Linked DNA regions of Homo sapiens: regions 2 and 3 are each linked to region 1. Evidence: fine-mapped expression QTL. A gene starts in region 1. Each other region holds a variant in brackets. All regions are shown on one strand. Distances are from middle to middle.

Region 1 (10,282 bases):
TACCCCAAAACACGAGTGGTGGATTTTCCAATTACTATTTGGAATTTGAAACCACTTCAATGGACATTTTGTACTTGTTACATTAAAACTCATTATTTTTGACTGTACCTCGAATGCCTATTTTCCTGTGCGTGATGTTGAAATGTCATGCATTGGTCATTTGGAAAATACTGATTTACTGAATTAAACAGATCTTCCAAATGCTAAAACATTTCATTATTCAATATCAATCACATTGTTAATATCACTAGTAATCTCATCAGAAAAGTTTTTAAGTATTGGGAAGCTAAAGTATTGTAGCACTGGCTTCCACATAAAGTCACCAAGTTCTTGATGGTTTTAAGTTTGTTTTTTATTTGAATTTTTGCATGAAAATTCCAACATTATTGGCAACAAGTACTGAGAATTATGTTCCTTGAAGTGGCACGAACATATTTATTTTCACGAAAATGTCTGCCAAATATCTAGGTTTGAATACCTCAGTTTATCTGTCAGTTCTTTCCAGTAAAAGCGGTATTTCATGAAAAAAGCAGCTAGTTAGTTCAGCTTACAACTCAAACGTTCCCACAAGTTCTTTTCCTGGAGACAACAATCATAATTCAGCATGTAGCAGAAGTGCTTTATGTGCATTTCCCATTTTGTTATAGAGAATATTAGATGAGTACTGAATGGTCGAGATGATTAAAGTTAATATTTTTTACTGCTAACCATCAGCTGAGCCTTCAATGAGTCATAATCTTTTTGCTGGTGGAGGGTTTTGCCTCAATGTTGATGGCTGTTGATCAAGGTGGTGCTTGAAAGTTGGGGTGGCTGTTGCAGTTTCTTAAAATAAGACAATAATGAAATTTGTCACGTTGATTGACAATTCTTTTCATGAAAGATTTTTTTTAAACCACAGGAAAACTTTTTTTTGAGACAGAGTCTCGTTCTTTCGCCCAGGCTGAAGTGCAGTGGTGCGATCTTGGCTCACTGTAACCTCCACCTCCTGGGTTCAAGCAATTCTCCTACCTCAGCCTCATGAGTAGCTGGCACTATGGGCGTGTGCCACCATGCCCGGCTAATTTTTGTATTATTAGTAGAGCTTGGGTTTCACCATGTTGGCCAGGCTGGTCTTGAACTCCTGACCTTGTGATCTGCCCACCTTGGCCTCTCAAAATGCTGGGATTATAGGCATGAGCCACCGCACCCGGCCAGGAAAACTTCCAAAGTTAGAGTCAATCCTCTCAAACCCTGCTGCTACTTCATAAACTAAGTCTATGGAGTATTCTGAATCCTTTGTTATCATTTCAACAGTGTTCACATCTTCACCAGGATTAGGTTCCATCTCAAGAGACCACTTTCTTTGTTCATCCACAAGAAGCAACTGCTTATCCATTCATGTTTTATTATGCTAGTGCAGTGATTCAGTTACATCTTCGGGCAGCCATAGCCTTACAAAATGTATTTCTTAAATAATGAGACTTGAAAGTCAAAATGACTTCTTGAGCTATGGGCTGCAAAAGGGATGTTGTGTTAGCAGGCATGAAATCAACATGAATCTCCTTGTATATCTCCATCAGAGCTCTTGGGTGAACAGGAGCACTGTAAATCAGCAGTAATATTTTGAAACGAAATCTTTTTTTTTTCCTGAGCAGTAGGTCTCAACAACAGTGGGCTGACAATATTTAGTAAACCACACTGTGTAAGTAGATGTGCTGTCATCTAGGCTTTGTTGTTCTATCTACACAGCAGAGGCAGACTAGAATTAGCATAACGCTTAAGGACTCTAGGATTTTCAGAATGATAAATGAGCACTGGCTTCAACATAAAGTCATCAGCTGCACTAGCCCCCTAGCAAGGGTCAGCCTGTCCTTTGGAGCTCTGAAGCCAGGCTTTGACTTCTCCTCTCTAGTTATGACAGTCCTGGGCGGCATCTTTTCCCAAAATAAGGTTGTTTCAACTCCAATGAAAACCTATTGTTTAGCAAAGCCGTCTTCATCAGTGATCTTAGGTAGATCTCCTAGATGACTTGCTGCTTTATCTTGCACTTGCACATTTTTTTTTTTGAGATGGAGTCTCACTCTGTTACCCAGGAGTGTGGTGGTGTGATCTTGGCTTACAGCAACCTCCAACTCCTGGGTTCAAGTGATCCTCCTGCCTTAGCCTCCTGAGTAGCTGGGACTACAGGCGTGTGCCACCACACCCAGTTAATTTTTGTATTTTTAGTGGAGGCAGGGTTTCACCATGTTGGCCAGGCTGGTCTTGAACTCCTCACCTCAAGGGATCCACTTGCATTGGCCTCCCAAAGTGCTGGAATTACAGGCATAAGCCACCATGCCTGGCCTATCTTGCACTTTTGTATTATAGAGACAGCTTCTTTCCTTCAACCTCATGAACCAACCTCTGATAGCTTCAGATTTTTCTTCTGTAGCTTCCTTACCTCTCTCAGCCTTCAGAAAACTGAAGAGAGTTAGGGCCTTACTCTGGATTAGGCTTTATCAGAATATTGTGGCTGGTTTAATCTATACAGACCACTCAGAGTTTCTCCATATCAGCAATAAAGCTGTTTTATTTTCTTACCATTTGTGTATTCACTGTAGGAGCACTTCAAATTTCCTTCAAGAACTTTTCCTTTGCATTCACGACTTAGCTGTTTCAACATGCCTTCCTCACCATGCTTAATCATTAATCATTTCTAGTTTTGATTTAAAGTAAGAGATGTGCAACTCATTCTTTTATGAAACAGTAGCCATTTTAGGGCTATTAATTGCCTGATTTTTTTTTTTTTTTGAGTCAGGGTCTTGCTTTGCTGCCCATGCTGAAGTGCAGTGGCGTGATCACAGCTCACTGCAGCCTCGAACTCCTAGGCTCAAGCAATCCTCCTGCTTCAGTCTCCCAAGTAGCTGGGACTACAGGCATGAGCCACCACCATGCCTGGCCCCTAATTTCAGTATTGCTGTGTCTCAAGGATAGGGAGGTCTGAGCAGAAGGAGAGAGATAGGGAGGCAGCTGGTCAGTGCAGTGGTCAGAACACATAAAACATTTATCGACTCAGTTTGCTGTCTTATATAGGGGTGGTTCATGGTGCCCCCCAAGCAATTATGACAGTAATATCAAAGATCACTAATCACAGATCACTATAACTGATTTAATAACGGAAACATTCCAAGAATTACCAAAATGTGAGAGAGACATGAAGTGAGCACATACTGTTAGAAAGATGGTGCTGACAGACTTGCTCCATGCAGGGCTGCCACAAACCTCCACTTTGTAAGAAACATATGATACCTGTGAAGTGCAATAAAGTGATACACATGAAAACAGTTGTGCCTGTTACATGACATATATACACACATATATATAACTTGAGAATTTAGGAAGCGACATGTCAAACAGCTTATAACACTATAGTGTACTATCCAAGTGTTTGAGACACAGTTAAAATAATCAGTAATGAGGACAATGACAGAATACCTAGTAAATCTTAATTCCCTATCAAACCATGCGCAAAAATGAGTCTTAGTAAATTCAGCATTGTTGCCCTATGTCAGGGACAAAGTACATGTATTTTGCATAGATGGACATGTGACAAAATAGAAATTGGTTTTCTGAGACAGGATTCTCCACAGCTTCTGCAGGAGGGAGAATGTAACTGGATACCAGGATTGCAATCATAACCTTTTATAATTTCGGCTAGTTTTGTGTCTTTTAAAAAAATTACATTGGATAGTTATTTCAGGATACAGTGTGTTATGGGTTAAATTGTGTCCCCCTTTCAAATTCATGTGTTAAAGACCTCACTTCCAGTATTTTATAATGTGACCTTATTTGGAAACAGGGTTGTTGTGGATATGATTAGTTAACATGAGGTCATATTAAAGTAGCGTCTACTGTACTCCAATATGACTGATGTCCTCATAAAAAGAACGCTAAGTGTGCAGACAGACACGGACATGGAAAACGTCATGTGAAGACTGGCGGGGGCATGCTGCCACAAGCCAAGGAATGCCTAGACGCTGAGATGCATTAACAGGCTCCCATCACAGCTCTCAGAAGGAATCAACCCTGCCAATACCTTGATTTGGGACTTCCAGTCAGACCTCTGACAATAAATTTGTTTAAGCTGCCTAGTTTGCAGTATTTTGTTCCTGCAGCCCTAGCACATCAACAGTGAAAAGAATATGGATTCTGATGCCAGCCTTTAGTCTTTGCCCTGCTGCACGATTATTTTTGACTTTTGACGAGTAATTTCCACATTCTCATGCTTAAAATTCAATTTAGAATAACTTTTACTTTATTGGATTCCTTTGGGGATTAAATTAGTTACAAAAGATGTAAAGCGACTGATCCTCAAAATGATTTCTTTCCCTTGTTTTGTGACATGTCATGCTCTCAGTTATTTTCAGTGACTTTTATGGAATCCTAAATATATCAACTTAAAAAATTACATTAGCGATATTCTTGGTGTTACCTGACTGTGGTGCGGTCCAGAAAAATAAAACCACCTGTTAGAATGCGGGTTAATTAGATGGGACACTGCGATTTACAAAGCTTTCTATTTGCTGCCATGCCCAGTACAATGTCTTTGCATACTAGGTACTAAATAAAATTATGTTACTTAAATGTCACAACCTCTAAAAGTTTAAAAAATGACTTCTCTAAAAACTCAAATATTTTTTTCCTTGGCGTTCCTCTTACAGAATTGTTTTTAGTGATAAAGTTTTATTAATATACTTAATGCAGAAATAACTTCACTTCTTTTTTTTTTTTGGTAATCTGGATCCCCTAAATAGAATGCTAAATTTGTTTCTTGTGCAACAAACAAGTTACCACTTCTGACTCTTCATCTTGAGCTTCCTTATTTTTTTTTGGAGACGGAGGCTCGCTCTGTCCCAGGCTGGAGTGCAGAGGCGCGATCTCGGCTCACTGCAACCTCCGCCTCCCGGGTTCAAGCGATTCTCCTGCCTCAGCCTTCCGAGTAGCAGGGGTTACAGGCGCGCGCCGCCACGCCCGGCTAGTTTTTGTATTTTTAGTAAAGACAGGGTTTCACCATGTTGGCCAGGCTGGTCTCGACCTCCTAATCTCGTGATACGTCGGCCTCGGCCTCCCAAAGTGTTGGGATTACAGGCGTGAGCCACCGCGCCTGGCCTTGAGCTTCCTTTTTAAAGGAAGGAGCAGGAATGTTAACCTACACAGAAAAAAAAAATGCTTTCACGCTCTTGATTTACTCTAGGTGGGCTTCAAATGCGCGGTTAGCGCTTTCTGTAGAGCGTTGAGACGGCTGTTTACGTAAAGACCATCATGCGACGTTTCCAACCTAGATTCTAAGAAAAAAGCGGCCCAAGTCCCACCTTTCGCAGGGAACAGCTGATTCTGTTTTTCCTTCCCAGCCAATGGTGATCAAAAGCTTCAGGACGCTGGTGAGTCACTGCGGAGGAGCCGAACACTGACCGCGCCGTCCCCGCCAGGCTCCCGCGCGGCCGGCACCGCGGCCCTGAGCGCAGGCGGCCCCGGGTCTCAGGCCTCAGGCGGACCGCGCCCCGGGCTCGCAGCCCTCCCGCCCCGGCTGCCGGGCTACGGGGCAGATGGACTCGGAGCGCCCCGCCGGTGAGTAGCTACGACCCCCGAGGCCACCTCCCGCGAACCGCTCGGCGGCAGGAGTACGTGACCAAGGGTGGGGGCGTTGGCCCAGCAGCCGAAGGGGTCTTCAGCGCGCCCAGACCCCTCGGGGCTGCGGGGCGGAAGCCGGGGCGTGACTTCCGGCGCCGCCGGGTGTGGGGCGGAGGTGTGGGGCGGCTTCCGGAGAACCCAGCGGCGCGGGACTGGGGCGGGACTTCCGGCGACACCGGAAGTGCATTAGCGCCAGGTTGGGGTTGTGGGGTCGCGTCAGTGCGGAGACAGCGGTGTCCTGCGCGTCTTCGGGTCAGTACGGGGGGCCGCGTCGTAGGGACTCACTGGCGGTGCGCGACCTGGGCTGGCTCCGGGGGTGGCGGGCGCAGCTGCTGTGACAGGTGAGTGCCGCCATCTTCCTACCTGTCAGGCGCCGAGTCGTTCCCCGGATGCCCCGAAGAGGAGTCGGGACACTGCAGGGCTCAAGGGGGTGCAGGGGCAGTCGGGGCATAGTGGCGGATGGGGTGCAGGTGGGCTTGGAATGCAGAGGGTCCGTGGTGGTGCAGGAGGGGTCGGGTCCCTGGAGGACCCGTGGCGGTGCAGGAAGGGCCGTGGTGCAGAAGGGTTCAGGGTGCAAGAGAAGTCGGGGCGCAGGAGTAGTCCGTGGCGGTGCCAGAGGGACCAGGGTGCGGGAGGGATGGGGGCCCGGGGCGGTGCAGAAGATGTCGGAGTCCAGGAAGAGTCGGGGCGCTGGAGGGGTTGGGGGCAGAAGGGTTCGGCCCGGGGTCTCTCCCCGCCCCCTTTGCTTCGGCCTGGGCATCCCGGGGAAGTGCGTCTCCAGGGAAGCACTTGGGAGGCCCTTCAGAGAGGAGAATGGCCTTTCTTCTCTCCAAAGAGTGGGGATGGTCGGCTTCAAGAAGGGTGGTGAGTGTGGAGTGACGGATGCTGAAGTGATTAACACAGCGCCATGATATTGTTCCCCTTTTGAAGACTTCCTTTTCCTTCCCTTCCCCCTGAAAGCAGCCACCGCTGGAGGGAAACATTTTAAGACAGCTGTTCACCGGAATAACACAAGAGCAACAATAATAATGTACTCATTTACTAAACCAAGTTGAATAAATACATTTTTCCAGGTTGTGAGTGAAAATAGCTTAAGGTCTGCCAGGTTTTTAGAGATTTTGTCATTTAACTTAAACGCTAAAACATTCGTCCCTTGAAGCGGATACCATTATAGAAAAGTGTTAATTGCTTGGAAGTTTCATTTATTGAAGTTCAAGTGTTTTTCTCTTAAATTCAGTATGTTGGCCTGTGAGTTACGGTCATAAAAGTATTGCAGGAATTATTTACCTCTGAATGAGAAAGCTCAAGATAGTTATATCTCCAGGAACTTTCTTCGTCTTCTGAACTTCCCCCAACCCCAGCAGACACACACACTGTTCTGGTTACTTTCCTGATCAAATTCGAGTCTTTCAAAATAGCTTTTGATATGTCCCAGGAGTTAAACACGGTATGTAAATATGAACTCACCAATGTGGAACAAATGGAGTGATCTGTTATCCCCTGGGTTTAGACGCTGCCTTTCTATTAATACTGCTCACAGGAGACAGAGTAGGGACTCGTGTGCACTGGCCACGTCTCAACAGCAGTGTGACCTTGGGCAAGGCCTTCCTAAGTCCCGACTCCCTGTCCTCTAACATGGTGTTCATATCAGCCTCATTTTCTTACTGGGAAGGTTACGTTATGTAATATATGCCAGCCATTTTTGCAAAGTGCTGTATACAGGAGATCTTGAGTGAGTGTGTTTCCCTCCTCCTCTTTTTGGGTAGCTATGTTAGGCTGTTCACTTTGGGCATTTGCCCTGAACTAAAATCCCTAAGTCCCTTTCCCCAAGGTGAAACTAAGATAGAGTTTTCATATTTATCCTGTCTTATTCTTTTCAGGGAAAAGATTTTACATCTGTTGAATTTCATCCTTGGTTTAAAGTTGTTCTTTTAACTACTGAGATCTTTTGAAAATCTTGATGGCTATTTATCTGATTAATGGTATTTCCTAATTGATTGTCATCCACAGAATTGATGGTGTATGTATTCCATGCCTTCATTTCGTCAATGACAAAACATTTTAAGCAGGTTAATACTGATGACAGATTTCTGAGGTTGCCTGTAGAGACCATTCTCTTCCTCGATATTGCTCAGAAGTTGAATTTGGTGTCTCAGCCCACTAGGAATTCGTCTAACAGTGTTATTACGATAAAATGTTACTACAAACTTGATTAAACTTCTGGTGGAAATTCCATCACATTTTATGCAATTTTCAATTTATTTCTCCAATTTATTTTTAATGCCACATGGACATTATATTCCTTAACCATTCTTTTGCATGTGATTAACATTTGTGAAATTAACCACTTAAGCAAGTGTTTTTGCTTTGATGAAAGAAAAATGTTTAAAATCCTACTGGATATGAAACTGAAAGTAATGTTTTGTGTTTTTTGTTTCAAATGAAAGTGTAAATTAAGAATTTGTTGGCAGGGCGTGGTGGCTCATGCCTGTAATCCCAGCACTTTGGGAAGCCGAGGTGGGCAGATCACCTGAGGTCAGCAGTCCAAGACCACCCTGGCCAACATGGTGAAGTCCCGTCTCTACTAAAAATACAAAAATCAGCTGGGCATGGTGGCGGGCACTTGTAGTCCCAGCTACTCAGGAGGCTGAAGCAGGAGAATCACTTGAACTCAGGAGGCAGAAGTTGCGGTTAGCCGAGATCACGCCACTGCCCTCCAGCCTGGGGAGACAGAGCGAGATTCTGTGTCAAAAAGAAAAGAATTTGTCGTATTGCTGTTTCAAGCTACTTTGGTTATGTTATCTGCCTTCCTCAAATTATACACACTTAGGAGAATGATAATTTCTATAGCTACAAATTAATTAATATTGGAAATATTGAAAAGAATCTGGCCAGGCGCAGTGGCTCATGCCTGTAATCCCAGCACTTTGGGAGGCTGGGTCAGGTGAATCATGAGGTCAGGAGTTCAAGACCAGCCTGGCCAGGATGGTGAAACCCCGTATCTACTGAAAATACAAAAAATTAGCCAGGCGTGGTGGTGGGTGCTTGTAACCCCAACTACTCAGGAGGCTGAGGCAGAGAATTGGTTGAACCCGGGAGGTGGAGGTTGCAGTGGGTCGAGATCGCGCCACTGCACTCCAACCTGGGCGACAGAGCGAGACTCTGTCTCAAAAAATATATATATAAAAGAATCTTTTGAGAAAGAGCAGAAAGCTAAGTGTTCATTGATGCTGTTTAATATTACAGCATTTCTGTCACGCAGGCTGGAGTGCAGCGGCATGATCTCAGCTCACCACTGCCTCCACCTCCCAGGGTGGAGCAATTCTCGTGCCTCAGCCTCCAGGGTAGATGGGAGGCGTGTACCATCACGCCCAGCTGATTTTTGTATTTTAGTAGAGACGGGACTTCACCATGTTGGCCAGGCTGGTCTTAAACTCCTGACCTCAGGTGATCCGCCTGCCTGGGCCTCCCAAAAGGCTGGGATTACGGGCATGAGCCATCATGCCTGGCCCAATATTACAGCATTTCTAAAGATGAGGAATTCAGCTTGCTAACACAGTGTGTTTATGGGTTTCATTAATTAGTCGAATGTTTGGCCAGTGCCTGCTGTGTGTAGAGCACTGTGCTGCATCACAGCTGTGTGCCTGTTGTTCTGACTGCTTACAAGCAGTGGGGTGTATTACGTACACGGCAACATATACTAAGGGCAGGTGAACTGGACAGACTAAATGAGTCAGGAGTTCAGAAGGAGCGTTTATTCTGTTAAATCCATGGTAGGATAAAGAGATTGAATTTTTAGAGGGGACTATTTATAGTTTCTTGAAAATAATGTTTTATTGAAAACCAGAAGGACATTTAATCTCCATAAGCCTTCTTTGTAATATGGTAATCTGTCCAATAATATTGGGTAAATGTGAATATTTTGAAGGAAAATAATTACGTTTTGGAATCTCAGGTTTCTCTTTGCTTGTATTTAGGTAAAACAGTGCATAGAGGTTAAAGAAGGTTATATTTGGAGTGAAGAAGTTTGTTTTTTCTCTTTACAGTTCTATAATCAGTTTATTAGTGTTTAGTCTGTTAAATACAATCGGGTGCCACATAACAAATGATGTTTTGGTCAACAACAGACCTCATGTAAGATGGTGGTCCCATAAGATTGTAATACTCTATTTTTACTGTACCTTTTCTATGTGTAGATATGTTTAGGTACACAAATAGATACCATTGTGTTACAGTTGTCTGCAGTATTCAGTACAGTAACATGCTGTGCAGGGTTGTAGGCTAGGAGCAGCAGGCTGGGCCATCTAGCCTAGGTGTGGAGTAGGCTGTGCACCTAGCTTTGTGTAAGTGTACTCTGCGATGTTCCCACAGTGACGAAATCACGTAACGATGCATCTCTCAGAACCTGTCCCCATCCTTAAGTGATGTATGACTGTGTTGAAAGGCTCTTAATTGGATTTGGGAACTCTGTCTCATAGGGATGTTATGAGGATTAGTGACTCTTTGTATTTATTGATCCATTTGAGCCTTACAGCAATTCTTTGTAGTAGCTCTTCAGCCTCTGGTAGATCTGCCAGTCCACCAACTTTCTTCCAGTATCTCTCCATTAATTCTTTCTGTTTTCACTTCCCTT
Region 2 (10,598 bases), 45 kb before region 1:
GGAGGCAGTCCGCTGCTGGATTTCACATGCTGTCCTAATTACTTTGTATTTCATGTTGTTTTTATCTCAAATAAAAGGACATTTCTGGCCAGGCGCAGTGGCTCACGCCTGTAATCCCAGCACTTTGGGAGGCTGAGGCGGGTAGATCACCCAAGGTCGGGAGTTCGAGACCAGCCTGGCCAACGTGGTGAAACTCCGTCTCTCCTAAAAATACAAAATTAGCCGGGCGTGGTAGCGCATGCTTGTAATCCCAGCTACTCGGGAGGCTGAGGCAGGAGAATCGTTTGAACCTGGGAGGCGGAGGTTGCTGTGAGCTGAGATCATGCCACTGCACTACAGCCTGGGCAGCAAGAGCGAGATACCATCTCAAAAAAAAAGATGGCACTCCTGATGCCATGGTCGCACTCAGGATTTAAAAAGATGGCACTCCTGATGCCATGGTCGCACTCAGGAATTTGTTGCTCGGTTAGAGTCCTGAGGGGCAACATTGCCTCCGGTTCGTGAAGGGCAGTTGGAGGGCACCGTCTGTGCAGAGGGTCACTGTGGTGGGAGAGAGGCCCAGGCACTGGAGATGCACCTTCCCTCAGGGCCGCTTCCACCTGGGCCTCAGAGAATGTGGCCCCCTACGTGTTAGTTACCTTGAGGGAAAAGGCTCAGTGGCTCTGATCTGTGGCTCCTCCTGGAACCTGTAGCTGGAGGCTGCTGGAGGATGCGTTTGTGACTGTGCCTTCTTTTTTACGTTATTAGGCTTGCGATAGGCTTTTGGCTCATCGAGTGGAAACCAAAATGAAGGGAAATAAAGTGAATGAGGTGCTGAATAGACTGCACCTGGCTATCCCAACCAGGAGGGACGATAAGGTAAGACGGCCCCTGGGACAGCCGTGGGCTCACAGTACTGTCAGCAGGTGCTGTCTGCGTGCCTTTTCCAGAAGCCTCCCATCCAGCTTCACACACTCGCAGGTGGATATTGTGGGTGGGCCTCAGTTTCACCTTCTTGCTTACATAAAGGATCGAGAAGGTGAAGAAAGTGCAGAACGCCACATGGCACCCGTTTCCCACTGCATGACGTGGTCACTGTTAGTTTATCCTTCCAGAAATGTTTCTGATATAGAAGATTAGTTTCTAAAAAGTTCTTTAAACACAGATGGAAATCTGTTTCATTCTTTAAATTTTCATTTTTTTGGCTGGGGGAAGTAGCTCACGCCTGTAATCCCAGCACTTTGGGAGGCCAAGGTGGGAAGATTGCTTAAGCCCAGGAGTTCTTGACCAGCCTGGGCAACATAGTGGGACCCTGTCTCTATAAAAAATAAATAAAATAAATTTTCATTGTTTTGTCCATTGTGAATGGGCACACATCGTTACGCTGTGTCTTCATGTTTTACTGCAAATGTGTCTGCACTTCACCATGTGGTGTTGACAACGTTCCTGTCCCACAGACGCCTTCCTGGTGTGTGCTGCACTGACGCTGGAGGCTGTGTCCTTCCCTCTGTCTTTCCTTGTGTCCTCGGCGTGGTCGGGCACTGACTGTCAGTCTTGTGTAAAGATGATTTTATTGTTGTGTGTTTATGTAATGCTGGGTGCGGTTGAGCATGTTTGTCTGCTTATTGGCCTTTTCAAAGTTCTTTAGGCTGTTTATCTTTTTCTCGCTGATTTGTTACTTTTGTATTACAAAGGTTGGATTCTTGTCAGATACATTGCAAATTTTTTTCTCTTTTTGTCACTTGCCTTTTTAACTTCAAATGTGCTGTACATTTTTGAACTATTAACATATATTAATTTTTTTTTCTGGGTGTTCAGGTTTGCATTGTACATAGAAAGGCTTACCATTCATTCCAAAGTCATTTTAAAAGTATCTTTTCTTGCTGGGTGCAGTGGCTCACGTCTGTAATCCCAGCACTCTGGGAGGCCGAGGCGGGTGGATCACCTGAGGTCAAGAGTCTGAGACCAGCCTGGCAATCATGGTGAAACCCCATCTCTGCTAAAACTACGAAAATTAGTCGGGCGCGCACCTATAATTCTACCTATTCAGGAGGCTGAGGCGGGAGAATCGTTTGAACCTGGGAGGTGGAGGTTGCAGTGAGCCGAGATCACTCCACTGTACTCCAGCCTGGGTGACAAGAGTGAGACTCTGTCAAAAAAAAAAAATTATCTTTTATACTAGCATTAAAAATTAGCTTTTTTGGATAGTCTTCACCGTGTCTTGAGTTGGTTATGTTGTGAGGGTGGAGGTTGCACTCCGTTTCAAGTGGTCGGCATTTCTGACCTGAGTATTGGAAATTTTATGTTTCCATTGAATTCTTATATGCACTTGAGTTTATGTCTAAATTTCTTTCATCTGTTGATCCAGTGTTATTTCTTACCACTTTCTTCTTCCATAATTTTTCATGATAATCATGATTTCTGTTTTTCCTGGATAAACTTTGGAATCACTTTGTGGAGTCCTCCTGGTCTCTGTGCTCAAAGTGACCCTGAACCCACTCCTCTCCCCTAAAATAATCTGTTGGTTGTTAATTGGTCTCGGTATGAACCCACTCCTCTCCCCTAAAATAATCTGTTGGTTGTTCATTGGTCTGGGTATGGTTTTCTGTTCCCCTTGCACGTAGGGAATTTGTTTCTACTTTTTCGGCTTTGTAAGTTTCTCATTCAGCAGGCATTTCACATAAATATTTTATATGGGATCTTCTCAGGAGAGGCCCCCTTTCATCCCTGAAGGAGTGGTGGCTCGCAGGAAGAGGATGGAAACTGAGGAGTCCAGGAAGAAGAGGGTATGCTGCCGAAGCTCTCGCCCAGTGTTCTCATGGGGGGAGGCAGGCTGTGTGTGCCCATCGTGGGGGCCTGGGGCATCGAACAGGAGCCGCGGGTGCCCAGACACTGGCCCCGTCAGGCTGCGGACACAGCAGTGAGTCCCCCTGCAGAAGCCTCTCTCATGGGGCTCTTTGGCCTGAGGGAAGATGGCCGTGAACCAAATGCATGAGTGGGATAGACAGTCCCCAGATGGCCAGAAACAGCCTCTTCCTACCAGAACCTAAAGGCCGGCCCCACAGACAGGGAGATAAGAAACAGCCTCTTCCTACCAGAACCCAAAGGCTGGCCCCGCAGACAGGGAGATAAGAAACAGCCTTCCTACCAGAAATGGAAGGTGAACCCCACTGATACTGAGAGGATTGGAGAAAAGATTGTTTCAAGTGACAAGGGGCAGAGCATTTCTGGATCTGAAAGGCAAAATGAAGCTGATGATAATTTCTCTTTCTATTGCAGGAACGAGATCTTGAGCTGGAAATGGGAGATGATTATATTTTGGATCTTCAGAGTAAGGGCCAGAGTGTGATCATTATTATAAAATGCCAATTGGACGTGAAGTATTTCAGAAAATGGGGGAAAGACTTTAATAAGTAATAAAAGTGTTTCAGCCTATTTGTCAACTTTTAATTTCTTGAAGATTAAAAGTTGCATCCTGAGGGCCAGGTGCAGTGGCTCACGCCTGTAATCACAGCACTTTGGATCCCTTATGCCCAGGAGTTTGAGACCAACCTGGGCAACATGGCAGAACCCCGTCTCTACAAAAAATACAAAGATTAGCCGGGTGTGGTGGCATGTGCCTGTAGTTCCAGTGACACGGGAGGCTGAGGTGGGAGGATCACTTGACCCTAGGAGG[A/T]CAAGGCTGCAGTGGGCAGAAATTGTACCTCTGCCCTCCAGCCTGGACGACAGAGTGAGACTCTGTCTCAAAGAAAGGTGCATGCTGATAGCACTCAGTGGGGGTTCTTCCATTGTTTCCTGTTGTTTTGGGATGGTGGGGTGATTTCTGTAGCTTTCTCCACGTGTGGGTGTTGAATGAGGCTGATGTGTTGTTTCCTGTTGTTTTGGGATGGTGGGGTGATTTCTGTAGCTTTCTCCACGTGTGGGTGTTGAATGAGGCTGATGTGTTGTTTCCTGTTGTTTTGGGATGGTGGGGTGATTTCTGTAGCTTTCTCCACGTGTGGGTGTTGAATGAGGCTGATGTGTTGATGCTGCTGCATGTGGAATTGCACGTCGTGCTCTCTTCTGCAGTGGAGTCGTTGATTTGCCGTCAGTCACAACTCATTTTGCGCACGTAGTACTTGAAGATATTAAAAACTGCTGTAAACGTAACCACCTTTTTTTTAACTTTAGAGTACTGGGATTTAATGAATTTGTCTGAAAAACATGATAAGATACCAGAAATCTGGGAAGGCCATAATATAGCTGATTATATTGATCCAGCCATCATGAAGGTTTGTGTCACTTTTTAAATTGCGGATTGTTTTCCTTTTTATTATAGTAGTATTGCTGGAAGATAGCAGCATGGCTTCGGCTCAGCTGGGCCTGTCCGCTTCATTCTGCACCCCTCCATCCTGACTCTGCCCCCTGTACCACTTCCCCACCCTGAGACTCTGGTGGAGATACTGGCCCTGGCTGGGCTCTGCTATGCTGGCCTGCCCCCTTCCCGCCGCCTCCACCCACCCACCCCGGACACTCTGGTGGAGATGCTGGGCCCCTTCGTTATCCTGCACCCCTCCATCCTGACTCTGCCTCCTGCACCTCTTCCCTGTCCCGACACTGGTGGAGATGCTGGGCCCCTTCATTCTCCTGCATCCCTCCATCCTGACTCTGCCCCCTACACCACCTTCCCCACCCCGAGACTCTGGTGGAGATGCTGGGCCTCTTCATTCTCCTGCACCCCTCCATCCTGACTGTGCCTCCTGCACCACCTTCCCCCCCACCCTGTGTCTCCGCCAGGCCCTGGATGGGCTCTGCTGTGCTGGGCCCTTCATTCTCCTGCATCCCTCCATCCTGACTGTGCCTCCTGCACCTCTTCCCCCCACCCCGAGACTCTGGTGGAGATGCTGGGCCCCTTCATTCTCCTGCATCCCTCCATCCTGACTGTGCCCCCTGCACCACCTTCCCCACCCTGTATCTCCGCCAGGCCCTTAATGGACTCTGCTGTGCTGGACCCTCTTCCTTGGGGGCTCCGCTGTGTCACATCTTTTTCCTGCCTCAATCCCCTCCCTACTTGCTTTTTCTTAGCATATAAAAGTCCACAAGTTTTACTCATCTTTTTAAAAAACGAAAACATCCTTAGACCGTGTCCTCCATTAGTTGCTATCCTGCCTTCTTCTCTCAGCTGAGCTGTCTGAAACATGCTAACATGCTTATACAATACTTGCTGTCCTGCCTTCTGCTCTCAGCTGAGCTCTCTGGAACATGCTTTTTATACAATACTTGCTGTCCTGCCTTCTTCTCTCAGCTGAGCTCTCTGGAACATTCTTTTTATACAATACTTGCCATCTGCATGTCCCATGTTGCCACTCCTTGGTTCCCACAGGCCCTCCGTCATTGAGTTCACATTTTCAGTCTCGTGGTCTCTGTGCTCCCTGTGCCTCCATAGCAGATTCTGGGATAGCAGATTCTGGGGGCAACAATCTCAATTTCGTTGGTGCTGGAGGAGTGGCCTCAGGGCATCTGCTGTCACCTCTGCTGGGGCCCCAGTCCAGCCCGTGCCCTCACTGTCCCCGCGGTGGCCGCCTGCCTTCCCAGCCTCTTCCCCTCTGCAGTGCGCGCTCTTGGGCGCAAGAAGCCTTGAGACTTCCCTCCTCCGCACAGCTGTGCCCGTGCCATCCCCTTCCACGAGGCCTGGCCCCCGTCTCACCCTCTGCACTGCTGGCCAGCATCTCGTACAGGCACATCTGCCTGCTGGGCTCCTGGCCGGGTTGCCTCATTGGGGGGTGATAAACGTGTGTGTTTTAGTTTTCATTTTTGTCTTATTTGTAGCCAGTGAGGTTGTATTTGGGGTGACATTAGAACGGACACGTGGGATGTGGCACGAAATCAGTGTCTCAGGACTGAGTTCCTTGTGTGTGTCTGCCGGGAGCATTGGAAGTGAAGGAGGCGGTCTCTGCACATTTTTAGCCTTGGAATTTAATTGTTTTAAAAAAAGGAAATGGTGCACAGGGGTTACTGACTTGCTGGCGGCTGGCGTTCACGTGGTCTCCATTTTCTTCACAGAACCCTCCCTGTGAGGTAAATGGCACATAGGCAGGGCCCAGGTGGGTCTGGACCAGGGCAATCGCTCTCCTCTGAGTCAGGGAAACAAAGCTCCCATACACACTCTGCCACACTCACTGACTCAGGGGTTTTCTCATTGTTAATTTTGCTTCATTACAACTCCATTTTTAAAGAAATTGGAAGAATTAGAAAAAGAAGAAGAGCTGAGAACAGCTGCTGGAGAGTATGACAGTGTATCTGAGAGTGAAGACGAAGAGATGCTGGAAATCCGACAGCTGGCAAAGCAAATTCGAGAGAAAAAGAAGTTGAAAATTCTGGAGTCCAAAGAAAAGAATACACAGGGACCCAGGATGCCGCGAACTGCTAAGAAGGCAAGTTTGTGTCTTTCCAAAGCAGTGTGATCTAGTTTTTGAAAATTGGATTCCTGTGTGATCATTGCTAAATAACAACTTTTCAACCCATTTATGGCCATAAGATTGCACATTCTTGTTTTATTGGTGTATGGATTTGCAAGATCGCTCACGTATTGATCTTTTATATTCTTTACTGCGTCCTTTCTTGGTGACTTTCAGCTTCGAGTTTGGCACTACTCTAGATCCAGTCATTTTGCAGTTGTACAGATTAAAACTGTAACTTATGGTTCACAGACGTTCAAGGCTATCAGTGAACATTTTCCTCTTCTTTTTTCTCTCTCTCTTTTTTTTAGGGGGGAGATGGAGTCTTGCTGTGTCTCCCAGGCTGGAGTGCAATGGCGCCATCTTGGCTCACTGCAGCCTCCACCTCGCGGGTTCAAGCAATTCTCCTGCCTCAGCCTCCCGAGTAGCTGGGATTACAGGCACCTGCCACTACGCCTGGCTAACTTTTGTATTTTTAGTGGAGATGGGGTTTCACCATGTTGGCCAGGCTGGTCTCAAACTCCTTACCTCAAGTGATCTGCCTGCCTTGGCCTCCCAAAGTGCTGAGATTACAGGCGTGAGCCACCACGCCCGGCTGGTTTTCTTGTTCTTTAATTTCTGCATTAAATCTGGACTCTTTAGGCCGGGCGCAGTGGCTCACGCCTGTAATCTCAGCACTTTGGGAGGCTGAGGTGGGTGGATCACGAGGTCAGGAGATTGAGACCATCCTGGCTAAAACAGTGAAACCCCGTCTCTACTAAAAATGCAGAAAAATTAGCTGGGCGTGGTGGCGGGCGCCTGTAGTCCCAGCTACTCGGGAGGCTGGGGCAGGAAAATGGTGTGAACCCGGGAGGCAGAGCTTGCAGTGAGCCGAGATTGTGCCAGTGCACTCCAGCCTGGGCAACAGAGCAAGACTCCATCTCAAAAAATAAAAAATTTAAAAAAAAATCTGGACTCTTTAGCAATTTACAGAAACCTGACGCAGTCTACAAAAGGCAATTTATTGGCTCTGTGGCAGGGTGGGACTGGGGGAAGAAAGCCCACATGCAGGGCAGTTAACATGTAACCAGAGAAGTCACTTGACATTCAGGATGCCTCTCAGTGGGTCTTCCTGTTTGAATACACTGTTTTCACATGGTGGCAAGTGACTGGTTATGGCGGACTTGGACATTTTTGTACTTCTCCAGGTGGGGCTCAGCCATCTCTGGGAGGAGAGAGGTTGGCGCACTGCCTTTGTCTGAGGCCACCTCACTAACCTCAGCTTTAGTGTCTCACCTCTGATGGAGACGGTCACTCTCTCCCCCGTGTTGCGGTGAAGAATGGACAGACGTGGAGGATACGCTGATTCTTCCCACAGCAACTGCTCTGTTAATGTTAGTTTTCGTGGGATTTAATTGAGCTATCCAAAAACATGAAAGCGGGGCCCAATAAAAATTACAACTTCTAAAATAAGTATATTATAATTGTTGCAAAATATGTATACATATATATTGCCTTGAAGTTTTTTTCAACATTTCATCAAACTAATTTAAAGCTAATATTTCTTTTTATCCTTCTCAGGTTCAGAGGACAGTTTTGGAGAAGGAGATGCGTAGTCTTGGTGTTGACATGGACGATAAAGACGATGTGAGTGTGGGGGCGGTTCATGTGTTTATGTGGCTGGATACACCTTTTTAATAAAGAAAACTGGCCGGGCGTGGTGGCTCATGCCTGTAATCCCAGCACTTTGGGAGGCCAAGGCGGGCAGATCATGATGTCAGGGGTTCGAGACCAGCCTGGCCAACATGGTGAAACCCAGTCTGTACTAAAAAAAATACAAAAAATTAGCCGGGCGTGGTGGCGTGTGCCTGTAATCCCAGTTACTCAGGATGCTGAGGCAGGAGAATTGCTTGAACTTGGGAGGCAGAGATTGCAGTGAGCTGAGATCGTGCCCCTGTACTCCAGCCTGGGCGACAGAGTGAGACTCCATCTCAAAAAAAAGAAAGAAAGAAACCAGGGTTTTGGAAAGCCGTGGGAACGTGGGAAATTACAGCAAAAAGAAATGAGAGCTTCCAGTTTTTCTCTTTTGAGATTCGCTGGCCCTGGGACTGACTTGAAGTGATGGGTTGAGGATTCCCTGACCCTGGGTCTGGGTTGAAGTGGTGGATTGAGGCTGCACTCCAGCCTGGGCAACAGAGCAAGACTGTGTCTCAAAAAAAAAAAAGCTCCACAGCCAGCACGAGACAGCACCATGACGTGCCCAGGGTGTGGCTGCAGACCCTGTCCTCTAGATGTGCAGTCTGCAGTTTCCGTCTGATGGTTTCTGTCTGATGGTTGTCCCTTTGTGTTCATATCAGTAACCCCCAAAATGGGGCAGTGAGGGAGAGAGCATTGTTTATATCTGAAATATAAATTGTGATGCTATACTATAATAATCACTTTTAAATGAGAGTTCTAAGTTTCTTTAAGTGGAGTTAAAATCAGCTTTCTTACGTAAAGCAGCTTCCGTTAAGTGAATAAGAATATTTGACCAACAACTAATGTGAAATTGTTACTAATGTGAACTTGAAATGGTGTCACTAATATGAAAATACTGCGTGTATTTTCAAGACCTTTAGCCCATGTGTTAATGGTTCAGACGCTCCTCTCCTCCCCTCTTGCTGGAGTGACCTCATGCCTGTCGCTGAGCCTGGGTGCGGGGCTGGGGTCCTGAGCTCTGAGCCTGGGAGTGGACCTGGGGTCCTGAGCGCTGAGCCTGGGAGTGGACCTGGGGTCCTGAGCGCTGAGCCTGGGAGTGGGGCTGGGGTCCTGAGCGCTGAGCCTGGGAGTGGGGCTGGGGTCCTGAGCTCTGAGCCTGGGAGCGGGGCTGGGGTCCTGAGCGCTGAGCCTGGGAGCGGGGCTGGGGTCCTGAGCGCTGAGCCTGGGAGCGGGGCTGGGGTCCTGAGCGCTGAGCCTGGGAGTGGACCTGGGGTCCTGAGCGCTGAGCACTGAGCCTGGGAGTGGACCTGGGGTCCTGAGCGCTGAGCACTGAGCCTGGGAGTGGACCTGGGGTCCTGAGCGCTGAGCATTGCTTCCCCTGCTTTGCAGGCCCATTACGCAGTCCAGGCAAGAAGATCCCGGAGCATCACTAGGAAAAGAAAGCGGGAAGACTCTGCTCCCCCGTCCTCTGTGGCCCGGAGTGGGAGTTGCTCTCGAACTCCACGTGACGTTTCTGGTCTTAGGGATGTCAAGGTCAGTCTCTGTGTTGTGTAATGTAATAAAATGACAGTCTCTGTTGTTTATTGCACAGGGTTCAGGGCAAACACCAGCAGTTGCCATTTGCAGGAACTATGGCAGGGGTTGTGTGTACTGCATGCCCTCGTTTTGTGGCATCCTTTAGAGGAGAGCACGGGTCAGGGTGCAGGTGGATGCCCCTGACAGCTGCCCTGGATGGACCCCTCCTTGGCACTTTGCTTTTGCGGAGGGTGGCCAGAGCATGGTCTGACAGCACTAGCAGTCTGGGCTTAGACCCTGCTGTCTGAAGAGGGCCAGGAAGTGGCCACAGCTGAGCACCAGGAGGCCTCAAGTCCAGCAAGCCCCCCATGGGAGGAACAGCAGAGGGAACTCCTGGGTTGATTGGCGGGTGATCCTGCTCATCCTTAGGTTGCAGGATTGTTCCCCCCAGGTGGAGAGCTTGAGTCACATTTAGTTTATTTGTAGCGTCTTTTGGCAAAGACACTTAAGATGGACACAGTCTGTCTTGCTGAAACGTCCTTTTATTAAACACAACAACTTTTAGTTTCAGCGTTGTGGTAATGGAGATGCAGGAGAGTCTGTGTATAAACTGCAGTCTCCTTCATGGAAGCCTGAGCTTCACTCCTCTGTGCCATTGCCATCTTGAAACCTGGCTGTTAATATTGGCATTGCCACTTGTCAGTCAGACCTGAGGAAAACAGGTTCATGGGCCTGAGTCCTTAGCTTGTGTAAGAGGGAGTTAAAACAGATGTGTGCTAACCTTCTAGGTCTAAAGTGTATCTAGTCCTGGGTATAAAGCTTGTCCTGGGTATGATTTTCATCCAGTCTTTATACAAAAATACTCATTGAGTTCCTGCAGATAACTGTGCTGGGCTTAAGAGAAAAGAGATGTAACAGGGATAACTGTGCTGGGCTTAAGAGAAAAGAGATGTAACAGGGGTAACTGTGCTGGGCTTAAGAGAAAAGAGA
Region 3 (11,345 bases), 54 kb after region 1:
CCTCATGGTTTCCCAGGTCAGTAATTCTGGGCCCGTGGTAGCTGCTCTTCTCCCTGGGCCCTCAAAGACCTAAGTGAGGGTGCTGCCTGGTCAGGACCTCCCCAAGGCTGCGGTCCTCTTCCAAGCCTGCTGGTCATTGGAGGAGCTCCTTCTTGCGTCTGGAGTTTGAGGCCCTGTCTTCTTGCCAGCTGCCAGCCGGGGCTCCTCTGGGCGTGCAGAGGCTGTGTCTGGCCCTGGGGCCCCTGCACAGGGCTTGCCTTTCCCACACAGCAGCCGCTTTCCTCTGCAGCTGGAGCTCCCCTGCTGCTCTGAACTCTCCAACTTCTGGGACCCTTTTTAAGGGCTAGGCCAGACCACCCAGGACAATATTCCCTTTGATGAAGTCAAAGTCAACTCATTTAGGGACCTTAATTACATCTGCAAAATCCTTTTTGCCTTATAATGTATCATAATTACCAGAAAGATAATCTCATCCTATTTACAGGCTCTGCCCTAACTGAAGGGAAGGGTGTTAGGCATGTACGGGGTGGGGGTGGCTTGGGGCCATCTTGGGATGCTGCCTGCTGAAGTTGCTTCTGCGAATCTATCTCTAAGTGCATTTCCTGCATGAGCGTTAAAGATTGTATTTGACTGAGGACCCATAGCGTTGTATCATTAGAAGGTATTCTAAGCAAAGAATCAAGATTTAAGTGGTTCTCACATTCAACCTGTTAATTTGCCTGACCTTCTAACTGGTAGGGTCAGAAAATGGGTTATGCACCTGTTTGGTTTTCTGTTCCTTTGACATGGACGGCTGAAAGGACTTCAGCTTCTGAGGGAAAACCTGCCCCACTGTGACCCACATGCTGCTGAGTGATTCCATTAGGTCAGGTTCACAGTCTCAGAGAGACGGCTTCTTGGGTTCTTGTGCTGTTGAAAAGCGTCTCTCTCAGCGTGCTCCTCAGGTGATGACCTTGTGTTTTGCCATCTTGGTTACAGGGCACGACCAGGAGTTGACGCACTGCTGCACACACCCCACCCAGCGGCTCGTGGTGACCTCCTCCCGTGACACGACTTTCCGCCTCTGGGATTTCAGGGACCCCTCCATCCACTCGGTGAATGTTTTCCAGGGACACACGGAGTGAGTTGCGGTAGTTTAGACATCTGTCCTTAGTCATGAAAAAGTTCTGTGGGTTGACATGAAAACTTAATTCTAGCCTTAATTTTCAGTATTTCCGACTCTACTATCTTTCAAAAAAATAACTACCTTTCAAATTCTGCTATTCTTTTTCTAAACATTTAGCTCCATTTTGGCTATTTCAAAGGATGTAGGAGATTAAGAGAAGGCACCCTCCGAAGTTCTCTCAAGAAGTTTAATGCAGACAGAATGGGGGAGTGGGTGGAGAGGGTTAGAGAAGAGCAGGGCTGCCAGAGCCTGTAGCTGAGCACAGGGGCCGGCCACGCCACCATAGGAGCCGCGGGAGCTGTTACTCCTACCCACGGGGTGTCTCCTGGATCTTTTCCATCTAGTTTTTGTTATTACACGTGTCTGCGTGGTATATTCTGGGAGAAGGTATACACATAGACGCGCAAACACAGACATAGACCCTCAATCCAGTGTGTCCCTCTCTGCTTGGGTTTCTCTCCGGCAACTCAAGTGTAAGGTCTTTTTTTTCTGAGACGGAGTCTCGCTCTGTCGCCCAGGCTGGAGTGCAGTGGCGCTATCTCGGCTCACTGCAAGCTCCGCCTCCCGGGTTCACGCCATTCTCCTGCCTCAGCCTCCCGAGTAGCTGGGACTAGAGGCACCTGCCACCACGCCTGGCTAGTTTTTTGTATTTTTAGTAGAGATGGGGTTTCACCGTGATAGCCAGGATGGTCTCGATCTCCTGACGTCGTGATCCGCCTGTCTCGGCCTCCCAAAGTGCTGGGATTACAGGCGTGAGCCACCGCGCCCAGCCGTGTAAGGTCTTAACAGAACTCTTCAGTTCTTTCCGTGACCGTCTCCTTCCCCCAGTCTGGCCCTGCTCAGTCAATGATGAGACCGTCTGCCCAGTCACGGGGGCTGTCTACCTAGAGTGTTCCCTGGTTCTTCTCTTTTAATCTCTGTTCCCCGTTCCCCCATCATGCCCCACTGTGGTCCACTGGCAAGTCTCCTGCCAGCCATGCCTGTGGGATCTTCCCGGCCGCTCCTCGCTCCTCCATGCTCCCCCTACCTCCCACCAGTGCTGCTCTCCACCCCGACGTCTGGATAAGCAGTGTGCATTGAAAGGTTTATAAATGAACTCCAAATATGAAAATCTGTTTTATATGTTTAACGTTAGTTACTAAGTTTTAGATTTAATGTTCAAAATGTTAGTAAGATGTTGGAAAGGAAAATAGGACTTTTTGTTTGTTTGTTTGTTTGTTAATAGACGGAGTCTCTTTCTGTCGCCCGGGCTGGAGTGCAGTGGTATGATCTCGGCTCACTGCAGCCTCTGCCTCCCGGGTTCAAGCGATTCTCCTGCCTCAGCCTCCCTAGTAGCTGGGATTACAGGCGCCCACCACCATGCCTGGTTAATTTTTGTATTTTTAGTAGAGGTGGGGTTTCACCATGTTGGTTGGGCTGGTCTTGAACTCCTAACCTCAGGTGATCCGCCTGCCTCAGCCTACCAAAGTGCTGGGATTATAGGTGTGAGCCATCGCGTCTGGCCAGGACAACGTTTTTAAAAAGAAGCTTGAGATTGGAAAGCTAATTCCTTGACTCTGAGGCTGGAACGGGAGCAGGCAGCAGTCACGACCATGCGTAGAGATCTTTATGGCAGCCTGGGTCTGTTCTGGGGGCATCACACGCATTAAACTGCTCCGTCCTGACATCAGGTCAGCGTTTATTCTGCCAGCTCCGTCAGCGATAGCCATAGTAATACAGACCTCCCGGTGGTCAGTGGCTGAACGCAGCACTGTGTTGTTGCTGCATCAGGGTGCAGCAGGCGCTGAGCTGGGCCCCCATGAGCTCCGCCACATGGGCCTGACCCCGCTGCAGGCCAGCTCATTGGTGAGGAAGATGCTGCAGCTCGGGGAGCGCTGCTTCCCATGCATGTTAGCTTGGATGTGGTGCTCCCCGACGTCCACCAGATGCAGAGGGGCCCCACAGCAAAGCCCTGGCTGGACCTGGGCCCACCACCTGGCACCACTGTGTAGGGCGGGGCAGAGGGGCCCGCATGACTGCCCTGCTGTTTCTCATGAGAATTCATTGGAAGGGCAGTCGGAGGCCTAGAGGACGGGAGGAGCAAGATGGTCTCACTCCTGCGCCTGCAGTGCTTTCCTAAGCTTTTTGCTTAGAAAAGTTTCAAGCCTACATAAAAACCAACAGAGTAGTACAGTGTACCCACAAACCCTTCACCTAGGTTCGCCTGTTGTATTGCAGCACTGCTGTCTCTTTACACATGTGTACACACCTCTCTCTGAAACACACGCCCACTAACCCTTCACCTAGGTTCACCTGTTGTATTGCAGCACCGCTGTCTCTTTACACATGTGTACACACCTCTCTCTGAAACACACGCCCACTAACCCTTCACCTAGGTTCACCTGTTGTATTGCGGCACTGCTGTCTCTCTTTACACATGTGTACACACCACTGTCTGTAACACACAACACGCACTACCCTGTCACCTAGGTTCGCCTGTTGTATTGCAGCACTGCTGTCTCTCTTTACACATGTGTACACGCCTCTCTCTGAAACACACGCCCACTTCCCCTTCACCTAGGTTTGCCTGTTGTTGTATTGCAGCACTGCTGTCTCTATTTACA[CAT/C]GTGTACACACCTGTCTGTAACAGACACGCCCACTTATCCTTCACCTAGGTTCACCTGTTGTTGTATTGCAGCACTGCTGTCTCTGTAGATGTGTACACACCTCTGTCTATAACACACACTTGTATATTTTCTTTGGCTGAGCCCTTTGAAAGGAAAACTCCAGCATGCATTTTCTAAGAATAAGGATGTTCTCCTAATACAGTACCATTGTTCAAATAAGAAAATTAGTAAAAATTCTATGGCATCCTTTATCTGGTCCACATTTAAATTTACTCAGTTCTCCCCAAAATGTCTTTGATACTTTTTTTAGAGCTAGGATTTAATCAGGATTCTCTCATCACATTTAGATATTATGTCCTTTGGCTTCTTTTAATCTAGAATGGTCCTTCCCCCATTTTTTGTTACTTTTTAGGATATTGAGTTTTTTGGTGAAGAATCCAAGCCTGCTCTTTTGCAGAACGCCCCTCATTCTGCATTTTTCTTATGACTTCCTTTAAGTGCCCCTCTGCTGTGCTATTGGTGTGCTGAAGCGCTCCTGCAGTTAAGATGGCGTCTGCAGGTCTGCCTGCCAGAGGTGCTCTCCTGTTTCAAATAGCGAAGCGACACTATTCTATGGATGTTAATTCCCCAGTGACCTTTCCTCGGTCCAGGGCTTCAGCTCATTGTTACGCTGAGTCCTGCAGAAGGGGATCTTTGTACTTCTGTCTACACTGGTTAGTTGGCACTGTGTTTTTTGAGTATTAGCGAGCATAGACACCTGCACTTTGTTGGTGTTGGTGGTTGTGATCCCTGTGGTTGCTTTGGTTTTGGCTTCTGTGATGCCCCCCCCCCCCGTGGAACCTGCAGGGCCCTGAGTGCCACCATCCTGGCACAGCTCCCTGCCCCAGGCTGGGAAGACCCAGCAGCTCTCACTGCATTGACTCTGGTCATCTGTATGGAGCACAAAAATCTGTCAGAGCTTTGAGAATTGGGTGAAGAGGGTAGTTTTGTGTCTAGAGAGCAGGGCAGCTTCCTATGTGCTTCTGATATGGGGGTTGCAGGGATAGGCCAGTGTGCCCTGCTGTGCCTGTCCCCTTTGAGGGCAGGATGGAAAGGCCGAAGAATTCTGTCCAGAGGAGGACGCAGTGGAGCCAGGGCTTGGTGAGTTGCTGGTTTGTGCCAGGCACTGTTGGAGCCCCTGGCATCACCCCAGTTCAGAGAGAGAAACTGAGGCATGAGGAGGCCAGGTGGTTTGCTGAGGGTTTGGCTCTAGGGGGTCATTCCAGAGCAGTCCCTCCTGGTGCCTTCAAGGTGCCTCTTGTGTTATTTAAGACCCTTCTAGTCCTGTATTGTCTCTGTTCAGTTGCCATATTTAACTGGAAGATTTTATTTTTGTTTTGTGTAAAAAGAAAAGTTTTTGTATTTATATCACCAGAGTTGATTGCAAGTGCATGTTTTCGCTTCTAAGGCTGTTGCAACCGTGTGGTCTTGGCCATTTGACTGTGAAGTGAAGTCAGTGCTGGTGGCATCTTTAAAATATCTGCTTAGGCTGGGCGCGGTGGCTCACGCCTGTAATCCCAGCACTTTGGGGATCACCTGAGGCTGGGAGTTTGAGACCAGCTTGACCAACATGGAGAAACTCTGTCTTTACTAAAAATACAAAATTAGCCAGGTGTGGTGGCGCACGCCTGTAATCCCAGCTACTTGGGAGGCTGAGGCAGGAGAATCGCTTGAACTTGGGAGGTGGAGGTTGCGGTGAGCCGAGATCACGCCGTTGCACTCCAGCCTGGGCAATGAGCGAAACTCCAAACTCCGTCTCAGAAAAAAAAAAATTCTGGTTAATTTGTGGTACATTTTTGCAGCTAGTGGATACATGAAACAATGGTAGTTTTTTAGAGAGCTGTACTTATGAAGAATGTAGTAAGTGTTATGAAAAAGTTCTTACTAATGTGGACCTATGAATACAGTTTCCTAGGGTTTATGTCTTCCTATTGGAATCAGGTGTGGGGGTAGAGTAAGGTGGAGTGTGTAATTCCCGTGTGCCCTTTCTCCCACATGGGTCTTCCAGGCTGTAGGCTGTGCTTCCATTCACCTGAACCACGGGGGTGAGGTGAACGTGGACCAGACCTGCCCGGGCCATGCTTACTCAGATCGTTTACGCTTTCTTTTTTCTTACTCAAATTATCATGAACTAGCGTATCTTGTTGATGTGTACATCCAAAAATACGTTTTGAAAAGATCTCTCTTTGGCGCTAATTTTGTTGCTGTGTCGGGGCGAGTCCGCTGGGCTGTTGGACATTGAGCTTCCCCTCACCGGCCTGGCGGTTTCTCAGCTGTGCGCATGCAGGATGAGGGCTTGGTCAGCAGGTGGAGCCGTGGACGCCTTTATTGAACACAAACTCTTCCTTCCTGACATCAGATCAGCTGTAAACCTTTAGACGTGCCTCATAATGAGAAAAGCAGGAAATGAGTCATTTTACAAAAATGTTTCATCTGAGGTGTCTTCTTAGTAACACTTGCCTTTGTCTCCGGCATGGGTTTTGTAGGTTCGAGCCAATACGACAAATAAAACCTACAGAGTGCGTGATCCTTACAAATGTGTAGAGCTGTGCATCCGCGCCACAGCACACCAGGGTGAGGGCCTCGCAGTGCGGTTTAGGTCCTGAGATGTGCGTCCGCGCCCCAGCACACCTGGGTGAGGTCCGGGGTGCGGGTTTAGTTCCTGAGAGGAATGGCCAGGTTGTGTGTGTGTGTTCCGTTTGGTCACTTGTCTGGGACGTTCTGAACATGACTTGTAAGAGCACACCCTGGGTCCCCTGCCTTCCCTGCCACCATGTCATTCTGAGGGACCCTCTGCGCCGGGGGCTTCTCTGCAGTGGCCACGGCATCGCCAAGGACATCCGTGAGCCTCCGATGGGTGTCCAGCGTGTTAGCGCCCAGACCCACAGGGCCTGGCACCCTGATAGGTGGGAATGTTGGCCCAGGGCCGGGCCTGAGGCCTGCAGGACTGCCTGCTCATCCGGGAAGTAGCTCTGCCGGTTTTACAGGGTGATCCTGAGTTCTTTTCACTAGTTCTTTTCCTGAGCATTGAAAGCAAAAGTCAGACATGTGTTCTTAGGAAGTTTGCTGTTCTTGTTGATGTAGGCTGGAAAGTTATATGCATGGTGTTTTTAGTGATACCCCTTAAACAGAGGCAGTATTTCTTCAACATGTGTGACTAAAAATACCCTTTCTCACATAATTTATATTAACATGATGTGGAATGTGCTTTTCAAAGTTTTATCTTAGGGCGTATTTTCACTTGTAGGAACTAAGCGTAAATTCTTTAGTATAGTATGTTGGAATCTAATGTCTTTTATAATGTAAATAATTAACTGTCTAGTTAAGGTGAATTGCTGTATATTGGGTTTTCTTAAGGCAAGAAGTAGCTCTAAAGGCTTAAGGTAACTGGCCCAGTTTTGTGATCCAGTTTCCAGGAGAGATTTTTCCCCACTTTCTTTTTTTTCTTACTGTAATCCCCATACTTTTACTTGCATTCTGTGCCTTTTTGAAAGACTGGAGTTTGAGTTCCAATGCTTCACTGTAAGAAAGAAAAGTGTAGCGAAATGGGTCCCCTGAAACGTGTGGTCATTACCTTTGCTGGATGGGGATGGAGCTCCGTGCTGTGAGCTGCTGAAGGCTTTGATCCTACGTGTTTAGAAGGACCAGTCACCTTTTCCTTTTGATGTGTCTTATTTCTTTCCACTCTGTGTTGTGGCATCTCTGTATTATAGCAGGAATTTTACCATGATAGTACTTAGTTGGCGTAACTGTGTGGCTGTTTTTATTTGACTGTTTGTTAGTGACCCAGCGTGTACTGATTTATATGAAAAGCAATTTTAGATACTTCATATAGCAGAAATGTGAAGTTGTAGTATGTGTTGTTATTAGAAATAATAAAAAGGCTTAATTTGAAAATTTCAGTGTGTCACAGGAATTCAGCTGTTGGTGGCTATTTCTCTCTCTCTCTTTTTTTTTTTTGTGAGACGGAGTCTCGCTCTGTTGCCCAGGCTGGAGTGCAGTGGTGCAATCTCGGCTCACTGCAACCTCCACCTCCTGGGTTCAAGCGATTCCCCTGCCTCAGCCTCCCAAGTAGCTGGGACTGCAGGCACGTGCCTTGGTGGCTATTTCTTACACCTTGTTTGATTGCACTCCGTAGATTGATGTTTTTTGCAAATGAAGGTCTGTGGAGCCCAGCCCTGGCTGAGCAGGTCTGTTGGTGCCAGTTTTCCAACAGCACGTGCTCACTTCCTGCCTCTCTCTCACATTTTGGTCATTCTCACAATACTTCTTACTTTTTCATTGTGATTATATGAGGGTGGTCAGTGACTTTTGCTGTAACTGTTATAATTGGTTTTGAGGCCCTGGGAACCTTGCCCATAGAAGACAGTGAACTTAGTCGATAAATCGTGTGTGTTCCGACTGCCCCACTAACTGGCCGTTCCTTCGTCTCTCACCTTCTCCTAATGCCTCTGACTTCATGAGTGAGACACAACACTGTTGAAATTAGGCCAATTAACATCCCTATAGCAGCCTCTCAGTGTTGAAATGAAGAGTTGCGTGTCCCTCACTTGAAAGCTGGAAATGACGAAGCTTAGTGAGGAAGATGTGTCGAAGGCAGAGAGGCTGAAAGCTGGGCATCCTGCACTGGACAGCCAGGTTCTGAATGCAAAGGAAAAGTTCTGGAAGGAAAGTAAAACTGCTACTCCAGTGAACACACGAATGATAAGAACACAATCCTAATGCTGATATGAAGGAACTTTGAGTGGTCTGCATTGATTAAACCAGCCACAACATTCCCTTTAGCCAAAGCCTAATCCAGAGCAGGGCCCTGACTCTTCAATTCTGTGAGGGCTTAGAAAGGTGAGGGAGCTGCGGAAGAAAAGCTGGAAGCTGGCAGAGGTTGGTTTATGAGGTTTAAGGAAGGAAGCCGTCTCCATAACATGAGAGTGCAAGGTGAAGCAGCAAGTGCTGATGGAGAAGCTGCAGCAAGTTCTCCAGAAGATCCAGCTGGGATCATCGATGAAGATGACTATGTTTAATAACAGATTTTCAGTGTAGACAAAACAGCCTTCTGTTAAAGAAGATGCCACGTAGAACTTTCCTAGCTAGAGAAGAGAAGTCACTGCCTGGCTTCGAAGGACAGACTGATGCTCTTGTGAGGGGCTAGTACAGCTGGTGACTTACAGTTGAAGCCAGTGCTCATTTACCATTCTGAAAATCCTAGGGCCCTTAAGAATTATGTGAAACCTACTCTGCCTGTGCTCTATAAATGGATCACCAAAGGCTGGATGAGAGCACATCTGTTTACACCATGGTTTCTGAATATTTTGAGCCTATTGTTGAGGCTACTGCTCAGGAAAAAACTTTTTTTTCAAAATTGTCCTGCTTATTGACAGTGCACCTAAGGGCTCTGACGGAGATGTACAAGGAGATGAATGGTGTTTTCATGCCTGGTAACACAACCCCCATTCTGCAGCCCATGGTTCAAGGAGTCATTTTGACTTTTGAGTCTTATTATTTAAAAAATACACTTTGTAAGGCTATAGCTGCCATAGATAGTGATTCCTCTGATGGACCTTGGCAACGTCAATTGAGCACCTTCTGGAAAGGATTTATCATTCTGGTCGCCATTCAGAACACTTGTGATTCATGGGAGAAGGTCAAAATGTCACAGGAATTTGAGAGACGTTGAGGGGTTCAAGGCTTCAATGGAGAAAGTCACTGCAGGTGTGGTGGAAACAGGAAGATAACTAGGATTAGAAGTGGATCCTGAAGATGGGACTGAATTGCTACAATCTCACAATAAATTTGAATGGACGAGGAACTGCTTCTTATGGATGAGCAAAGAAAGTGGTTTCTTGAGTGGGAAGGTACTCTTGGTGAAGATGCTGTGAACATTGTTTAAATGACAGCAAAGGATTTTGAATATTCCATAAACTTCAGTGGTAAAGCAGTGGTAGGGTTTGAGAGGACTGACTCCAGTTTTGAGGTTCAATTGTGGGTAAAATGCCTTTTTTTTTTTTTTTTTTTTTTTAAGATGGGAGTCTTGCCCTGTTGCCTAGGCTATAGTGCAGTGGTGCTATCTTGGCTCACTGCAACCTCCGCCTCCCAGGTTCAAACAATTCTTCTGCCTCAGCCTCCCGAGTAGCTGGGATTACAGGCACCTGCCACCATGCCTGGCTAATTTTTACATTTTTAGTAGAGACAGGGTTTCACCACATCGGCCAAGCTGGTCTCAAACTGCTAACCTCAAATGATCCACCTGCCTTGGCCTCCCAAAGTGCTGGGATTACAGGCGTGAGCCACCATGCCTGGCCCCAGTAAAATGCTTTTAAACAGCATCACATGCGGTAGAGAAATCTTTTGTAAAAGGAGAAATCAATTGCTATAGCAGACTCCATTGCTGTCCTATTTTAAGAAATTGCCCCAGCCTTCAGCAGCCACCACCCTTATCAGTCAGCAGCCATCAGCATCGAGGCAGGACCCTCCACCAGCAAAAAGATTATGACTTACCAAAGGCTCAGATGACTGTTAGTGTTTTTTAGTGGTAAAATTTATCTTACTTAAGAAATGCACATTGCGTTTTTAGAGGTAATGCGGTTGCTCACTTAACAGACTACAGGATGGTGTGGCTATGGCTTCTGTATGCACCGGAAAACCAGACAGCTCTTGTGATCCGCCTTACTGCGATCTTCACCTCACAGCGTGTTCTGGAATGAACGGAACCCGCAGAAGCTCCGAGATTGCCTGTGTTTGTCCTAACCACCAGGAGCTGCAGCTGGAAGTCAGTGCTTTTCACCTGAACTAAGTTCTTTTCTGTTCGTGTGTTTTTCACCCGGCAGTGTAATTCCATAAGTCTGGCCCTCTCCTGGCTGCTGCATTCCCTTGCACACACCCAGGGGGCTGAACCCACACGCAGGCCATTCCAGCGTGGGCCCTCACTGTGCAGACCGTGGGTGAATAGACGTGCCTGCAAGAGGCTTTTGCTGTCATGACATTTGCCTGTTTAGATCTCAGCCTCAGCCCTCAGACCTCCCTCAGCACACCCCAATCCCGTAGAGTTTTCCTCCCCTCCCCATCTCCCTTTTTTGTTTTTTTTTTTTTGTTGTTGTTATTTTGGTTGCTATAAAAAGGAGCTGACAGGCGAGGTGTCACTGGCCATTAAGCCTCCTCTGTGGGTGGCAGGTGGCTCTGCCTTGTGCCGGGCTGGCAGTGTTTGCAATGCGGATAAACTTTAGCATTGAAAAAAACAGGAGATCATCTCAACATGGATGCAATATTTGAGGATGCAAAGTTTTTTGTTTTCTTCCTTTTTAATTCTTTGCAAACGATTTTAACTTTATTCCCAAAATGTGGTCTTTGGTGCTTTCTTCTAAAGAAAACAAAACACACATCTAACCAAACAAAATTTTAAAAGATCAGTTGAGAAATTATAATGATCACTTTGAAGTGATGACATGTTTGTGTGCTTTTATTTCCAAACACCTGGGGGAGAGATTTGGTACTAAACACTGAGTTCTAGATCATGTGCTCAGAAAGGTAAACACAGTTTT

Alleles and levels. Positions count from the first base shown, and alleles are read on the strand shown. Sizes are in standard deviations (SD) of each study's normalised expression. Not every link is listed here.
In carriers of allele CAT in region 3, the expression in regulatory T cells of the gene that starts at base 5,407 in region 1 tends to be lower than with C alone (moderate effect, 0.72 SD a copy in Bossini-Castillo 2019).

The links.
Region 2: its variant is fine-mapped to the expression of WDR37 in whole blood (TOPMed, PIP above 0.99).
Region 3: its variant is fine-mapped to the expression of WDR37 in regulatory T cells (Bossini-Castillo 2019, PIP 0.95).

Annotation. Positions count from the first base shown.
Region 1 is chr10:1,050,979-1,061,260 of GRCh38, forward strand. It overlaps WDR37 (WD repeat domain 37), which reads left to right and starts at 5,407. Exons shown (of 14, transcript NM_014023.4): 1 at 5,407-5,990. It also overlaps a transcript of IDI1 not described here. RefSeq lists silencers at 4,885-4,944, 5,375-5,804 and enhancers at 5,055-5,104, 5,905-5,964, 6,065-6,124.
Region 2 is chr10:1,006,271-1,016,868 of GRCh38, forward strand. It overlaps GTPBP4 (GTP binding protein 4), which reads left to right. Exons shown (of 17, transcript NM_012341.3): 10 at 748-858; 11 at 2,688-2,765; 12 at 3,259-3,310; 13 at 4,150-4,250; 14 at 6,195-6,392; 15 at 7,977-8,042; 16 at 9,483-9,626. Among named protein-coding and RNA genes, the nearest start is that of IDI2-AS1, 11 kb to the right of the region's middle. RefSeq lists enhancers at 2,348-2,848, 2,849-3,349. The variant A/T (reference allele first, on the strand shown) is at 3,656.
Region 3 is chr10:1,104,148-1,115,492 of GRCh38, forward strand. It overlaps WDR37 (WD repeat domain 37), which reads left to right. Exons shown (of 14, transcript NM_014023.4): 11 at 979-1,120. Among named protein-coding and RNA genes, the nearest start is that of LINC00200, 50 kb to the right of the region's middle. RefSeq lists enhancers at 5,522-6,721, 6,039-6,621, 6,096-6,245, 6,622-7,202. The variant CAT/C (reference allele first, on the strand shown) is at 3,769.